2 separate regions of the Homo sapiens genome follow, and region 1 is linked to region 2. The links come from fine-mapping of genetic effects on gene expression. A gene starts in region 2. The other region holds a variant in brackets. All regions are shown on one strand. Distances are from middle to middle.

Region 1 (8,332 bases), 970 kb before region 2:
AAGCCTTGCAAGACCGTGACCACGAGTGGAGCCAAAGCCGGCGGGGGCAAGGGCGCGGGTAGCCGCCTGTCATGGCCCGAAAGCGAGGGCAAGCCCAGGGTCAAGGGGTCAAAGAGCAGCGCCGGGACTGGAGCTTCGGTCTCTGCCGCCGCCACCGCCGCCGCCGCCGGGGGAGGGGGCTCTACAGCTTCGACCTCTGGTGGGGTCGGGGCTGGGGCTGGAGCCCGAGGGAAGTTGTCCCCTCGGAAAGGCAAGAGTAAGACCTTGGACAACAGTGACTTGCATCCGGGACCGCCTGCCGGCTCTCCTCCTCCGCTAACCCTCCCACCAACTCCGAGTCCAGCCACTGCTGTCACCGCTGCTTCCGCGCAGCCCCCCGGGCCTGCACCTCCAATCACTCTGGAGCCTCCAGCTCCGGGGCTGAAACGGGGCCGGGAGGGGGGCCGAGCATCCACTCGTGACCGCAAGATGCTCAAGTTTATCAGCGGCATCTTCACCAAGAGCACAGGAGGGCCTCCTGGCTCCGGGCCCCTTCCCGGACCCCCCAGCCTGTCTTCTGGCAGCGGGTCCAGGGAGCTGCTGGGCGCCGAGCTCCGCGCTTCCCCTAGTGAGTTGAGTCAGGGCTTGAGAACAGGGAGGGAAGGGTACCTGGAATGCTCAGCTTGGGGTGGAGGAGCGAGGTCCAGGAAACTAGGGAAGCTTTTCTCTGGGGTGGGCGGATGAACCAAGCTCACCCCTCTGTCAAGGATTGGGGCAAAGAATAGGAGTCCTGAAGCGGGGCGAGTAGCTACATTGTGCGACAGGAGAAAGGACTTGATTTCAGAGGGACTCAGCCTCAGAGCTTTCTGGGAAAGTAACGTCCTTGATCAGAGTGACTAGAAAATTGCTCCCAGAGAAGCCCAGGACCCCACTTCCAGCCTCAGCTGAACTCTGGGAGCATGGAAACGGGGCTTTGCCGTGTTTAGAGCGACGTTGAAGGTGAAGGGGATGAGGAAGCCTCAGTTTCCCCTGAGCACTTGGGGCAGGTGGCATGACAGTGACCTTGCAGGCAGCTTCTCGCCAGGGACTAGTCGTCCCCTGGGCTGAGAGCAGGCTAGTGATGTTTTTCGTGCGGTGAAGGCGGATTGGGCGGTACGCGAGTCCGCGGGGGCTGGAACGTGCAGAATATTTAAATGTGAAGTGAGAGGGGGCGGATAGGAAGCCTCACTTCCCCCACTGCCCACCCCCTCCCCAGAGCCGCATTGAAACCCACCCGGGGCTGACCCTGGAGTGAGTCAGGTGGGGCGGAACTGCTGCAAAGGCAATCCGTACCCCGGGAGACTTGGGAGGCGGTACGGGGAAGGTAGTGTTTTTTACGGGGGCAGGGTGTCTATTATTATTACTATTTTCCTACTGGAGGAGATAGGCAGGAGACTCTTGGTTCGGCTCACACTCCCGGGAGAGGAGGCGGGTCCGGGAGCGGAGGCGGCCCCCGGGGTTTGGCTCCGGAGCGGGTGGGAGCAGATGGCTCCGGATCCCAGAGTTCCCGCCGCAGCTGCGGCGCCCCGGGAACGTCCGGCCGGTGTCAGGCGCGGGGGCTGGACCTGGCTGGCGGAAGGAGCATCCTTTCCCCCGGGCCTGTGGCTTCTCTCGGCCAGGCGATGGAGCCCTTCCCCACAGTTCTTTTGGAGGGCGTTTGTGGGGAGGGTGTGGGAGATGGAGGCATAGGAAAATCCTAGCTCTTTCCCTTGGGCTGTGGGGAGGGGTCCAGGGCTACAGTGCCGTTGACCTTGAAGAAGGGGAGGGAAACCCCTCACCTCAGTTTCTCTCCTGTGGAATGGAGGTTGGGGAAGACACACTCTCTTCTGTGTTTCAGCACCTCCTCCCAGGGTCTGCCCTGGGAACCAGTGGGTTAGGGAGGAGCTCCTCTTCTATTCTTTTTCCAGAGGGAAGAACCTGCCACTGTCAGAGCCCTGGTCTCCCTGTCTGGGGCCAGGACCCGCGTTTGGGGATGTGCTTTAAGGGAGATGCCAACTGAAGTATTTTTGTCTTGCTAGCTCCGTTGCTAAGCAACCACTGAGCGGCAGCAACAGCTGGGGGAGAGTGGCTGGGATGGGAGGCCTGGGGACCACCCTCAAACCTGTCTGTTGCACACACCTCTCCAGTGCAGGCAGGGTTGGGGGGGGGTTGGAAAGCTGCAGAGGGAGGAGGGGTGGCTCAGTGTTGGGGGTCCTTCTGAGCCAGGAGCCTCCCCTCTTACTGCCCTTCTCCCGTTACAGAGGCTGTGATCAATAGCCAGGAATGGACTTTGAGCCGCTCCATTCCTGAACTGCGCCTGGTAGGTAACCCAGTCCCCTTGCCTATAGGGAAGGCTGACCTCCCACCCACTGCACTCTCAGCTCTCTCCCTTCACCTCTCCTTCTCTCTCTCTCTCTCTTTGGGAATAGGGAATCGTTTTCCAGTTCTCCTGAGAGTCTGCCTTCATAGCACCAACATGGGGTTTGCTACAGCCTCCTCACAAGTTTTTCCTATCTAGTCTTTATGCAGCCATCCCCTTTTTCCTGTTTGTTCATGGTCCTCCTCCAGGCTTCTCATTTCTGGTATCTGCCCTTTGGCCTTCATGTTGTACTGCCTAGAATTGGGTAAAGTTTTCCAACTAGTGCCTAGAGCTGTGACATGCTACAAACACACACACACAGAGACACACACACACAACATATCTAGTATGTTTTCTAAACAACCCAACACACAAAAAAGCTGGTACTGAATTGCTGACATTCTTCAGCTCGTGCTCCACTTTGAGCTTGGGATCATTTCTTACCACACTCATGCCCTGATCCTCCCAACTGCTCTGATCCCCCCAGCTGCTCTGATCCTCCCAACTGCTCTCTCTGGAATGACTGTCATCCAGGCCCTGTAGGGTCCTGCTTGGATGACTTATCTCTCTGGGTTTTCTGGAGTGTCCAGACCCATGCATCCTGCCTTCTCTTATATCCCACAATTTCTGCTCCACAACCTTGCCCTCAGGGTGTGCTGGGCGATGCCAGGAGTGGGAAGTCATCGCTCATCCACCGATTCCTGACTGGCTCATACCAGGTGCTGGAGAAGACAGAGAGTGAGTTCTGAAGAGCCATAGTAAGCTAACCATTGGGGTCAGGGATCCAGGAGTGAGATCAATGATTAGGCAGGTGTGGAGACCAGGGGGGAAGGATGAGGCCATAATAGCAAAAGCACTGGGAGCATGGGGAGGTTTGGTGACCTGTCACCTCTGACCTGTTACCCCTTCCAACTCTTCTGGACAGGTGAGCAGTACAAGAAAGAAATGTTGGTGGATGGACAGACACATCTGGTGCTAATCCGAGAGGAAGCTGGGGCACCTGATGCCAAGGTGAGGGTGGAGGTGGTGGGGGACAGGCTGGCTGGGGTCAGCACTGGCCAAAGGAGAGGGCTCTGGTTTCCCAGGTCTTCATCTGGATTGGGTCCAGAGGAGTAGACCTGTCTGACTTTCCATTTGCTCCCTCACTCCCCGCAAGTTCTCAGGCTGGGCAGATGCTGTGATCTTCGTCTTCAGCCTGGAGGATGAGAACAGTTTCCAGGCTGTGAGCCGTCTCCATGGGCAGCTGAGTTCCCTTCGCGGGGAGGGACGAGGAGGCCTGGCCTTGGCACTGGTGGGGACACAAGGTAAGGAGGGGTTAGGAAAGCACTGCTTTCAAGGGAGGCCCTAAGGAGGCTACTGGGATATTGCCCAACATGGGTGAGAACTTGGTAAGGTGTGGAAATGGCCACTTGGATTATAGTACCCTTCTGGAGGGAGCCTGGTCTCCAAATAAGGGAGTCATGAAACCAAACAATAACTTCCCAAGGTCTGAGCAGAGAAAAGGGGATCTCCAGGGAGGAAAGGACAGCTATAGTAGCCATCTCCTTGCCTCTCCTGAAATGTCACCTACCTTGTGTTCTGACACTGCCATTTCCTAGTGCCACCATCCTAGGACACAGAAAATCTCAAGTCCTAGGGTGGATAGGAAACCTTTTCCATCTTCCTTTTTGCGACAGCTGGGTAAGGCTGACACCTTTTAAAGGAACTTATC[C/T]AAAAACAAAGTGAAAACACAAAGGAAATGATGATGAAAAGAAGAGAGCAGAAAACCTTTTAGTTCTCAGAGAAGTGACTCAGAGGCTCCCAGACTCTGCCAGGGCCAGGAAATGCTTTTCCAGCACTCCCCTGTGTCGAGCTGGTGGGACTTGGTCTGGATGCCTGTTCTGCTGGTGCCTATCTCCACCTGTTGCTTGCATCCTGGTTTCTTGCTGCAGAGTGGGCAGTCCAGCCATGACCCATGGGCACCCAACCTTTTCCTAGTTCACAAGCTGGTGTCCTCCCACCAGTTCAGGGTTCTATGGATTTGCAGGGCAGGGTGATTGTCGCTCGCGCCTGGGTCTCAGCTATGTAGACCTTGTCAGGAAGCACCACTCAGCAGCTCTGGAGTATTCCTTGAGGACACACACACACACACACACACACACACAGCTCACCCAGCTAGGTGTGTGAACTGGGCCCAGTACTCAGAAAGGGCTTATGTACTCCCATTCCACCTGGTCACAGAAAAGATGATCTCTCACACCCCATCCCCAGTGGACCCAGCCTGAGGGCCCAGTGCAAGGATAAGGGAATTGTGAAAAATCGAACAAGGTGGGGCTCCTTGTTCAATCCTGCCCCTTTCCTGTCCCCTCAGACAGGATCAGTGCTTCCTCCCCTCGGGTGGTGGGAGATGCTCGTGCCAGAGCTCTGTGCGCGGACATGAAACGCTGCAGCTACTATGAGACTTGTGCAACCTATGGGCTCAATGTGGATCGGGTCTTCCAGGAGGGTGAGTGTAGTGATCTCCAGCATATGTGGGAAGCCAGAGCAAGGGGCCTGGGATATTCTCAGTGGTCAGGCATCCAGGCCTCTCTCTGTGAGTGACAGGAAATTAGCCTTTGTGGGAGGGAGGAGAGATCAGGGAGGCCAGAGAAGGTTTGCTTAATAGTCGCAAGGTCTTTCTGGGCTGGAGGAGCTGGCAAGGCCACAGGTGGCATGGAGGCCACAGTGACAAGGAAGTTGGGTCCTGTGTTGTCTACTGGGGATTTCTCAAAGCTGGGCATGGAAGGGTGGTCTTGGGTATCTGGCCTGCTCACACCTCCTTCCGTCAACTCCCCTCAGTGGCCCAGAAGGTGGTGACCTTGCGCAAGCAGCAACAGCTTCTGGCTGCCTGCAAGTCCCTGCCCAGCTCCCCAAGCCACTCAGCTGCATCCACTCCGGTAGCTGGCCAGGTGAGTTGGGGTTTCAGAGTCTGCAGAGGGGCCGGTAAGATGCAGAGGGGCTGGGGATCCTAGGACAGGTACAGAGTACCCAAGGAGGTTCAGGGAGTGGGGAAACAGATGGAAATGGCAGTGAAACTATTGGCAGAAAGTGCATTGGACTGGAAATCAACCAGATTTGAGACATCATTTGCAGTGTCCTTAAGCAACTCACCTAACCTCCCAAGGCTATCAGGAAGATTGTATGACACAATACTTGTGAATCAACCTTTACAACATTTAAAGCATTGTCACAATGTTAGTGAGGATTTTAAAAATTATTAATGACAACATAAATAAATGGTGAGGTGATCAAGGAATGTCTCAAATTCCCCATAACGAGATATGAGTGTAGCTTGGTGGAGTAGGGGGCATCTCAGCTCTGCTGACTCTTCCATATGTGCCCAGGCTAGTAACGGGGGCCACACTAGCGACTACTCTTCTTCCCTCCCGTCCTCACCGAATGTTGGTCACCGGGAGCTCCGAGCCGAGGCAGCTGCAGTGGCTGGATTGAGCACCCCAGGGTCCCTGCACCGGGCAGCCAAGCGCAGGACCAGCCTTTTTGCGGTATTGGACATGGACATGCTGACCCCCATCCTCCTGTCCCCCATGACCTGCCCATCTTCCCTAGTCCCTAGACTCCTCTGTTGGGCCCTTCTTCATCTATCTTCCCTATCGTCACATCAGTGTATCCCTCTATCCATCCTCAAACTGATTCCAATAACCATTCCAGAATCGTCGGGGTAGTGACTCCGAGAAACGAAGCTTGGATAGTCGGGGAGAGACAACAGGGAGTGGGCGAGCCATCCCCATCAAACAGGTGAGTGATCCAGGGGCTGGGACAGGCTAGGGGCAGCTGGTCTTAGTTGGCTTTTTTCCCACATGTGTCTTTCCCCTTTCTCCAGAGCTTCCTACTAAAACGAAGTGGCAATTCCTTGAACAAAGAATGGAAGAAGAAATATGTAACCCTGTCCAGTAATGGCTTTCTACTCTACCACCCCAGTATTAACGTGAGTGGCAGAGACTGGGCCACATTGGCCAGCTTTGGATTTCCCTCAAGTTCTACCTGTCTATGCCTCTGACAAAGCACTAACCTCATTTCTAGGAAGTGCTAGTCCTCTTCTCTTAAGTTTAGCAGGCATGTGTTAAGAGCCCACCATGTGCCCATGCCAGGAATGTAAAGGTAAATACATTGCCCCAGGAACTTGCAGTCTAGTGGGAGAGCACCCAGGAAGGGAACGCTTTCTGGAGGAGACAATTGCTGGGCCAAGTCTGATGGGCCCATCCCCTAGATGTTCATCACAACCCATTTGGCCCCCAAGACCCCTCCCCAGTCCCTCTCTATTCTGTACCATGTTGACTGCTTCCCAGCATACCAAGGACCCCAACCTTCCCTACACTCTCGGCCCTGTACCCCTCCAGGATTACATCCACAGTACCCACGGCAAGGAGATGGACTTGCTGCGAACAACAGTCAAAGTCCCGGGCAAGCGGCCCCCGAGGGCCATCTCTGCCTTTGGCCCCTCAGCCAGCATTAACGGGCTCGTCAAGGACATGAGCACTGTCCAGATGGGTGAAGGCCTGGGTGAGTAAGGTTTATGACATAGGAGCAGAAGAGGGGCCAGGGCTGGGGAAAAAGAGGGGTAAGAGGGAAGAGGGGGCTGGCACTGGGCGAGTAGGAAGCTGGGTGATAAAGAGGGACCACATAAGGAATGGGGCCAGAAGAAAGAGGCTCACTGAGGTTTCATCTTCTTCCGACAGAAGCCACTACTCCCATGCCAAGCCCTAGCCCCAGCCCCAGTTCCCTGCAGCCACCACCAGATCAGACATCCAAACACCTGCTGAAGCCAGACCGGAATTTGGCCCGAGCCCTCAGCACGGGTCAGTGGGGATGACCTTCCATCTGCTGTCTTCCACACCCAAATAGGATGAGTGTGGGAAATGAATATGGGGTGAAGGCTTGGAGGCTGGAATAAATGCATGAGTGAACACATGGAGCCCCACACATGAATAAGTTCAATCATACCATGTCTATCATAATGGTTAAGACAAGTGGACTCTAACGTCAACTGCCTGAGCTTGAATCCTGGCTTGCCACATGGGCAAGTTACTTGACCTCTCCGTGCCTCAGTTTCCTCATCTGTAACATGGAGATAATAGTTTCTACCTCAGAGGGTTGCTTTGAGGTTTAAACAAACTGAGAATATTGTCTAGTACATAGTCAGCCATGTTTGACATGTTTGAAAAAAAATATATATATATAGTATGCAAATAACATTGTAAACAAATGATCCTTACAACAGTTTTGTCAGGTCAAGATTATTACCCCTATTTCAGAGATAAAGAAACTGAGGCTCAGAAGATTAAGTGCCTTGCTCAAGGTCTTAAGGCCAGTAAGTGGCAGAACCAGGATCTGAGTGCAGGACTGACTCTAAACCTCTCATCTCCCTGCATCCCCAGGAATGATCAAGGGGGAACTCCTGGAGAGGGACAGTTGAGGAGGGGAGCCCTAAAATGCCAAAGCTAGTTCAGGGAATGAGACAGGCTATCAAGAAATCAGGAAATCTGTGGAGGGGGCTACTGAGGCAGCTGTGTCTTCCTCCCTAAGACTGTACCCCATCTGGAGACCTGAGCCCCCTGAGTCGGGAACCCCCTCCTTCTCCCATGGTGAAGAAGCAGAGGAGGAAAAAATTGACAACACCATCCAAGACTGAAGGCTCGGCTGGGCAGGCTGAAGGTGAGGCTCTGGCAGGCACTTCCACTCCCACCCAGAACCCTCATCCCCAACATCAGCTCCCTGGCCTAACTCCTGCAGCAGGAGGAAAAGTGCCTGAGCTGAGTGCTTGACTACCATTACCACTGCACACAACTTAGTGAAAGAGTGGATGGACATCCCCCAGCCCCTGTCCTTCTTTCCTTGTTCCCCAGCTAATTCCTTTCCCCAGCCCCTGTTCTCAACGATGTCCATGTCTATAGCTCCTGCTCCCTCTCCTAATGACGTTCTAGTTCCTCTTCCTTCCCT
Region 2 (8,332 bases):
CCCATATGGCCAAAATATTCAAAGGGCAAGCACAGGCCCTCTATTTTCTTGCCACCCACGAGCTCCTTGCACTTCACCTTCCATTCCCATCACTCTCTGGAAACTCTCTCACAGCTCACCAAGGACCTATTAGCAGACAATTCCCAAGGCTTCCTCTCTCTTCTCCTCAGACCTCACTGCAATATTTAGCACATTCTTTTTTCTTATGATTTTATCTGATTCTTAGATCCTAACCTGGCCTTCAGTGAAGAAGAAGAAGATTGCTTTCAGATCGTGCCATGCTCTCATTGGATTCTGTCTGTGACTCCCTGTCACCCACAGGATAAAGTCAGAACTCCTCAGCTTGACACACGATAATAATAGTGAACAGTTATAGAGAACTTTCCTTGCCAGGCACTGTGTGAAACCATATATATATATACACAATATACACACACACACACACATGGTTTCACACATATATATGTGTGTGTGTGTATATTGTATACGTGTGTGTATACATTGTATATATATGTGTATATACGTGTATATATACACGTATACACACACATATATTTTTATATATACACATATATACACACATATATATTATATATACACACATATATATTATATATACATAATATACACAATATATACACATATATATACGTATATATAATACATATATATTATATATGTGTGTATATATGTGTATATATAATATACCCTCTATTGTGTATATATAATATATACACTATATATATAATATATATAATATATTAATATAATATATATGTTATATATTAATATATGTATGTGTATATATATAATATATATACACAATAGAGGGTATATGCAATTATTTTGTTTTTGTTTTTTTTTTGTTTTCGTTTTGTTTTGTTTTGAGAGGGAGTCTCGCTCTGTCCCCGGGCTGGAGTGCAGTAGCGCGATCTCGGCTCACTGCAAGCTCTGCCTCCCAGGTTCACGCCATTCTCCTGCCTCAGCCTCCCGAGTAGCTGGGACTACAGGCGCCTGCCACCACGCCCGGCTAATTTTTTTTTTTTATTTTTTAGTGGAGACAGAGTTTCACCGTGTTAGGCAGGATGGTCTCGATCTCCTGACCTCGTGATCCTCCCACCTCAGCCTCCCAAAGTGCTGGGATTACAGGCGTGAGCCACCGCGCCTGGCAGTGTATGCAATTATTATGCCCACTTTTCACATGAGGAAACTGAAGCACAGATTAAGGCAAGAATTAAGTGACTTTTCCAAGGTGAAACAGAGTGAATAGTAGAGACAGGATCAACTCCAGAGTGTTCACCTGCAGAAGCCTTGCATCTAACCACTGCACTACACTGCCTTTCCCTTTCAAGACCAGCCTGGGCAACATGACTAAGCCCTATCTCTACTAAAAATACAAAAATTAGCTGATTTTTCATGGTCAGGCCATGGCCTACGTTTGCCCCTTGGCTCCTGTCTCTCACAGCCAGAAGCCATAGTTTAATCCTTCTGACTACCCAATTTGAAGCACACGCTTCTCCGTTCACTTCTGAGATGCTCTACTCCCGTTCTCCTACAGCAGTCACAGACAGCGTCCCTTCCCCTTCACCCCTCCCAGCTCCTCCTCTCCCTTCTCTACCCTAAATGCAAGGACTCCTCAATGCCTCTTGATTGGCCTATCACAGAAGCTTTCTCACTAACCCCACAGTGTCACTCTCACTTCCCCTCTCATCCACATAGGGCTGTCTGGTTAATTTCCCTAAAGCGCAGCTCTGCCGATGTCACTCCCTGAATAGCATTCAACCTACTGAAAATCTAAATCTAAAACCTTAGTTGTACAAGGCCCTCCATGATTGGATCTTGACCTTTTCTCCCCCTCCTCTTTCTCACACTGCCTATGTTCCATCAAAACCAAAGAGCTTTAAAATGAAGGAAGTATGATTTGCTGAGCCTTGGAGGACAGATGGTATTTGACATGCAGAGATTGGGAACCAGGGCATTTCAGGCAAAGGGAATAGTGAGAGCAAAGACCTGGAACATGGCAAGTACAGAGCACTAATAAATGGAGATACCAACAAGACTACTCTGGATGATTCCGACTACCTTTTGTCACACGCGTCCCAGTGAAGAGATCACCAAACAGGCTTTGTGTGAGCAACAAGGCTGTTTATTTCACCTGGGTGCAGGCGGGCTGAGTCCGAAAAGAGAGTCAGCAAAGGGAGATGGGGTGGGGTCATTTTATAGGATTTGGGTGGGTAGCGGAAAATTACATTTAAAGGGGGTTTTTCTCTTGCAGGCAGGGGTGGGGGTCATAAGGTGCTCAGTGGGGGAGCTTCTGAGCCAGGAGAAGGAATTTCACGAAGTTAATCACTCAGTTAATGTGGGGCAGGAACAAATCACAGTGGTGGAATGTCATCAGTTGAGGCTATTTTCACTTCTTTTGTGGATCTTCAGTTGCTTCAGGCCATCTGGATGTATACATGCAGGTCACAGGGGATGTGATGGCTTAGCTTGGGCTCAGAGGCCTGACACCTTTCCTTTTCTTTCTTTCCAAGAACCTCTCTGCATGAGCTTTCCTGCCCCAACCCTGATTTTGTGGATAGTATAGAATCATGAGGCTGGGCACAGTGGCTCACACTTGTAATCCCAATACTTTAGAAGGCTGAGGTAGGCGAATTCCTTGAGGAGTTCGAGACCAGCCTGAGCAACATGGCAAAATCCCATCTCTACAAAAAATACAAAAACTAGGCAGGCATGGTGGGGAGTGCCTGTAGTCCCAGCTACTCTGGAGGCTGACACGGTGGGGGGAGGGGGTGGGAATCACTTTAGCCTGGGAGGTCGAGGTTGCAGTGAGCCATGATTGCACTACCGCACTCTATCCTGGGCAACAGAGCAACACCCTGTTTGGAAAAATTAATAAATAGATAATAAGAAAAAAAAGGATTGGTTTTTTGTGTGTGTGTTTTTGTTTTTGTTGTTGTTTGTTTTGAGACGGAATCTTGCTCTGTCGCCAGGCTGGAGTGCAGTGGCGTGATCTCAGCTCACTGCAACCTCTGCCTCCCAGGTTCCAGCGATCCTCCGGCCTTAGCCTCCTGAGTAGCTGGGACTACAGGCATGCAACACCATGCCCGGCTAATTTTTGTATTTTTTAGTAAAGACAAGGTTTTACCATATTGCCCAGGCTGGTCTCAAACTCCTGACCTCGTGATCCGCCTGCCTCAGCCTCCCAAAGTGCTGGGATTACAGGCGTGAGCCACCGCACCCAGCCTAAAAAAAAATTTTCTTAAATAGAATCATGAGGCCAGGCATGGTGGCTCATGCTTTTAATCCCAGAACTTTGGGATGCGAGGCAGGCAGATCACTTGAGGCCAGGAGTTCAAGACCAGCCTGGCCAACATAGCGAAACCTCGTCTCTACTAAAAATACAAAAATTAGTCAGGTGTGATGGCGGGCGCCTGGAATCCCAGCTACTCAGGAGGCTGAGGCAGGAGAATAGCTTGAACCTGGGAGGCAGAGGCCGCAATGAGCTGAGATCATGCCACTGCACTCCAGCCTGGAAGACAGAGTGAGACTCTCTCTCAAAAGAAAAAAATAAAAAATAGAATCATGAGCATAGACTCTGAGGCCAGATGGCCTGGGTTCAAAATCAGGCTTCGAGATTTACTTGTTCTGCAGCCTTGAGTAAGTGAACTGGCCTCTGTTCCTGTGTGCTCGTGTTCAAAATGGGAAAAAGAAACCTCAGTGATTTATTGAGAGGGTTAAATAAGTTAATGCATGTAAAGCAATACATAATTGTTAGATATTAGTATTATTTTGGGTAGTTGTTGTCTTATTATTGCCATATTGCCTTTCTCCCTGAGCCCTGTCTCTTCCCCTGAGCTTTCATAGAAGGAAACTGTGCCATGGGAATGTGCATTATCTGGTGCATTACACCACCACTTTTCTACAGTATGCATAACTCCACATATTGCAACATCCTTAATCATTTCTATCAGCTCTTTATCACTATTTTGGGCCATGCTCGTGCACCTTAACTTCCTTCTGTCTCAAGCGAGGACCTCTCTCTCTGCAATATAATACATGGCAAAGTAAGAAGTAGCCTTTATTCCCTTCTTTGGTTAAAATCTTCAGACATGGGTTTGTCTATAAACTCCAGTCAGCTTAGTCACTGATCCTAAGAGCAAGTCTGTAAACAGCACATGGCTCCCTGAACTGATCCACCATGACATTCTTTTCTTCCCACTTGGGCATACAGGCTAAGTATTCCTCAAGTCAATAATTGTTTTTTCTTTTCTTTTTGATTTTCTTTTTTTTTTCTTTTTTTCTTTCTTCTTTTTTTTTTTTTTTTTTTTTTGAGACACGGTCTCACTCTGTCATGTAGGCTGGAGTGCAGTGGTGCAATCACAGCTCACTGTAGCCTCGACCTCCTGGGCTCAGGTGATCCTCCCACCTCAGCCTCCCAAGTGGCTGGGACCACAGGTGTGCACCACCACACCTAGCTAATTTTTTGTATTTTTTGTAGAGACAGGGTTTCATCATGTTGCCCAGGCTGGTCCCAAACTCCTGAGTTCAAGGGATCCTCACTCCTCAACCTCTCAGAGTTCTGGGATCTTGGCCCAATCACAGAAGGCCCCTTTCCGCTTACCCAAAGTTTCACAAACTTACCCAACAGCTATCAGCATTAACCATTAAAGAGCTTGTTTCCCCCACTGCCGAGAATCCCGTTTTCAGAGGATACCCAGAGTCCCTATTTGTAAGTATGAAATCACTCCCAACTTGTAACCAGTACTCTCCCAAACTTCATGGGAGTAAAGATCAAAAAAGCAGAGCAAGCAATCGTGACAAAATTTCTTTCACGAATCAAAGTTGAAGGATCTTTTAAGATGATAAAAAATCATAATCAAAACCTGTCTCCAAACAGACCATATCCCATATCCCCTACACACACACACACACACACACACACACACACACACACACACACAACCACCCTTACCCACCTACATACCGGACTTGCTTAGGAAGAGTCCAGTCCTAGAGACTTGAAAGGACTTCTTTGCAGACCAGGCAGCAGTCGGCTTCCTCCTGCCCCAACTGCTGCCCACTCCAACCTCTGCATTGCTCTTATAACACCTCCCTCTTGTGGTAAGAGTCCAGGCTGCTTCACTCCCTCATAGGGTTCTCACCAGTGTCATCCTTGATCAGCTGCAGAATCAGATCTGTTACTACCAAAATGAAAAACAGAAAGAAAGAAAAGAGCTGCCCTGACCAGAGAGTCTTGTATGCTCCTCAGCCCCCATCCTCTAATTTTTTTTTTTTTTTTTTGAGACAGAGTCTCGCTCTGTCACCCAGGCTGGAGTGCAGTGGCATGATCTCGGCTCACTGCAACCTCCACCTCCCGGGTTCAAGCAATTCTCCTGCCTCAGCCTCTGGAGTAGCTGGGGTTACAGGCGCCTGTAAAAATTTTTGTATTTTTAGTAGAGATGGGGTTTTACCAAGTTGGCCAGGCTGGTCTCGAGCTCCTGGCCTCAAGTGATCCACCTGCCTTGACTTCCCAAAGTGCTGGGATTACACATGAGCTGACGCACCCAGCCCTCTATTTAATTACTGAGACAGGGTTTCCCTCTGTCACTCAGGCTGGAGTGCAGTAGCACAATCTGGGCTCACTGCAGCCTCGACCTCCCAGGCTCAAGTGATCCTCCCACCTCAGCCTCCAGAGTAGCTGGGACTAAAGGTGCACGCCACCATGCCCAACTAATTTTGAGTTTTTTTGTTTGTTTGTTTGTTTGTTTGTTTTTTGTAGAGATGGGGTTTCACCAGCTTGCCCACACTGGTCTCGAACTCCTGGGCTCAAACGATCTGCCTGCCTCAGCTTCCTAAAGTTCTAGGATTACAGGCGTGTACCACCGTGCCTGGTCCCATCCTCTAATTTAAACTGGAATATTACAATGCAAATCCCCTGCTGGAATGGGGTCAGAGGGCAGGTTGATTTTAGCAAAGCCCACTTCTTAAGACTGCCAACCTGAGATCAGCTGCTGCAAGCTGGGGCTGGCTCAGTCACCTTTCTGAAAGAACTGCAGCTGTTTCATAGCTTGAGCCCTGGACCTAGGGTTGTGTGTGTGTGTGTGTGTGTGTGTGTGTGTGTGTGTATATATATATATATATATTTTTTTTTTAAGTAACAGCTTTATTGAGGCATAATTCACATATCATACCATTCACTCTTTTGAAGTGTACGATTCAATGGGTTTTAGTATATTCACAAGGTTGTGCAACAATCATCACTATCTAGTTTCAGAATACTTTTATTATCCCAAAAGAACCCCATACTCCTTAGCAGTCACCTCCCATTCTTTCCTCCCACACCCCACTCCTGGCAACCAGTAATCTACTTTCCATGTTTGTGGATTTGCCTATTCTGGACACTTCATATAAATGGAATCACACAATATGTGACCTTTGTGACTGGCTTCTTCTGTTTAGCATAATGTTTTCAAGGTTCATCTATTTATCAGTACTTCATTTTAATGTCTGAATCATATTCCATTGTGTGGCTATTCCACGTTTTGTTTATGCATCCATCAACTGATAAACATTTGGGTTGTTTCTGCTTTTTTGTGTTATTATGAATAATGCTGAAACGAATATTTACATACAGATTTTTTGTGTGGACATGGGCCTTCAATTCTCTTGGATATATGTACCCTAAGAGTGAAATTGCTGGGTCAAATGATAACTCTATTTTTAACATTTTGAGGAATTCCCAAACTGTTTTCCAAAGAGGCTGCACCATTTTACAATCTCACCAGCTTCATATGAGGGTTCCAAATTCTCCACATGCTCACCAACACTTATTATCTTTTTTTTTTTTTTTTTTTTTTTGAGAGGGAGTCTCACTCTGTCACCCAGGCTGGAGGACAGTGGTGCAATCTCACCTTACTGCAACCTCTTCCTCCTGGGTTCAAGTGATTCTCCTGCCTCAGCCTCCTGAGTAGCTGGGATTACAGGTGCATGCCACCACACCCAGCTAATTTTTGTATTTTTAGTAGAGACGAGTTTTCGCCATGTTGACCAGGCTGGTCTCAAACTCCTGACCTCAAGTGATCCACTCACCTCGGCCTCCCAAAGTGCTGGGATTACAGGCATGAGCCACCGTGCCTGGCCATATTATCTTTTTTATTTTAGCCATCCTAGTTGGTATGGATTGATATCTCACTGTGGTTTTGATTTGCATTTCCCTAATGATTAATGATGTTGAGCATCCTTTCATGTGCTTATTGGCTATTTGTTTGTCTTCTCTGGTGAAATGCCTATTCAAATCTTTTGCTCATTTTTTGTCTTATATTAAATGTGACGAGTCACAGTACGACCCCGTAGTAAAATCGTACTTAGGGAGAATCACAACAGTACCTCAAACTCAACACATTCAAAACTAAAATGATGATGATTCACTGCAATCTGGTCCTCCTCATTTTCATGTTATTTCCTATCTGCATATGTATTCAACAAATTTAATAAGTGCTTAATAGATGCCAGGCAACTCCCTTCCATCCAGTTGCCCAAGTCTGAAACCTGGGAATCATCCTAGACCCCTTCCTCATCCCCCATGTCCAATCAATATTAATTCTACCTCCTTAAAGTCATTATGTCCATCCCATCCCTTCCATCTCCACTTTACTGCCTTAGCTCAGGCCATCAGTATTTCTCACCTGGTTTCCGGCAACAGTCTGCTAGGATTGCTCCACCTCTGGTTTCTCTCTACCCTCCTATTTGCCCTCTACAGGGCTCCAGAGTTTATTTATAAAACACAACTCTGAGGCCGGGGGCGGTGGCTCACACCTGTAATCCCAGCACTTTGGAAGGCCGAGGTGGGAAGATCACTTGAGCCTAGGAGTTCGAGACCAGCTTGGCCAATATTGCAAAACCCCGTCTCTACACAAAATACAAAAATTAGCCGGGTGTGGTGGCACATGCCCATAATCCCAGCTACTCGGGAGGCCGAGGTGGGAGGATCACCTGAGCCTGGGAAGGTTGAAGCTGCAGTGAGCCATGATCATGCCACTGCACTCCAGCTTGGATGACAGAGACCCTGTCTCATAAATAAACAAACAAACAAACAAAACACAACTCTGATTATGTTTCTACTCTGCTTAAAACCCTTCAATGAGCCAGGAATGGTAGCTCACATCTGTAATCCCAGCACTTTGGGAGGCCAAGGCAGGTGAATCAGTTGAGGTCAGGAGTTCGAGACCAGCCTGGCCAACATGGCAAAACCCCACCTCTACTACCAATACAAAAAAATTAGCTGGGAATGGTGGCACATAACTGTAATTCCAGCTACTAGGGAGGCTGA

Evidence for each region.
Region 1: its variant is fine-mapped to the expression of HSD17B6 in minor salivary gland (GTEx, PIP above 0.99).

What each region holds. Positions count from the first base shown.
Region 1 is chr12:57,729,354-57,737,685 of GRCh38, reverse strand. AGAP2 (ArfGAP with GTPase domain, ankyrin repeat and PH domain 2) reads left to right here. Exons shown (of 19, transcript NM_001122772.3): 1 at 1-607; 2 at 2,259-2,317; 3 at 3,007-3,094; 4 at 3,282-3,367; 5 at 3,513-3,660; 6 at 4,707-4,841; 7 at 5,174-5,283; 8 at 5,719-5,877; 9 at 6,044-6,130; 10 at 6,216-6,320; 11 at 6,733-6,895; 12 at 7,072-7,191; 13 at 7,919-8,047. Among named protein-coding and RNA genes, the nearest start is that of AGAP2, 5.2 kb to the left of the region's middle. RefSeq lists an enhancer at 2,857-4,056. The variant C/T (reference allele first, on the strand shown) is at 4,068.
Region 2 is chr12:56,760,070-56,768,401 of GRCh38, reverse strand. HSD17B6 (hydroxysteroid 17-beta dehydrogenase 6) reads right to left here and starts at 5,078. Exons shown (of 5, transcript NM_003725.4): 1 at 4,988-5,078.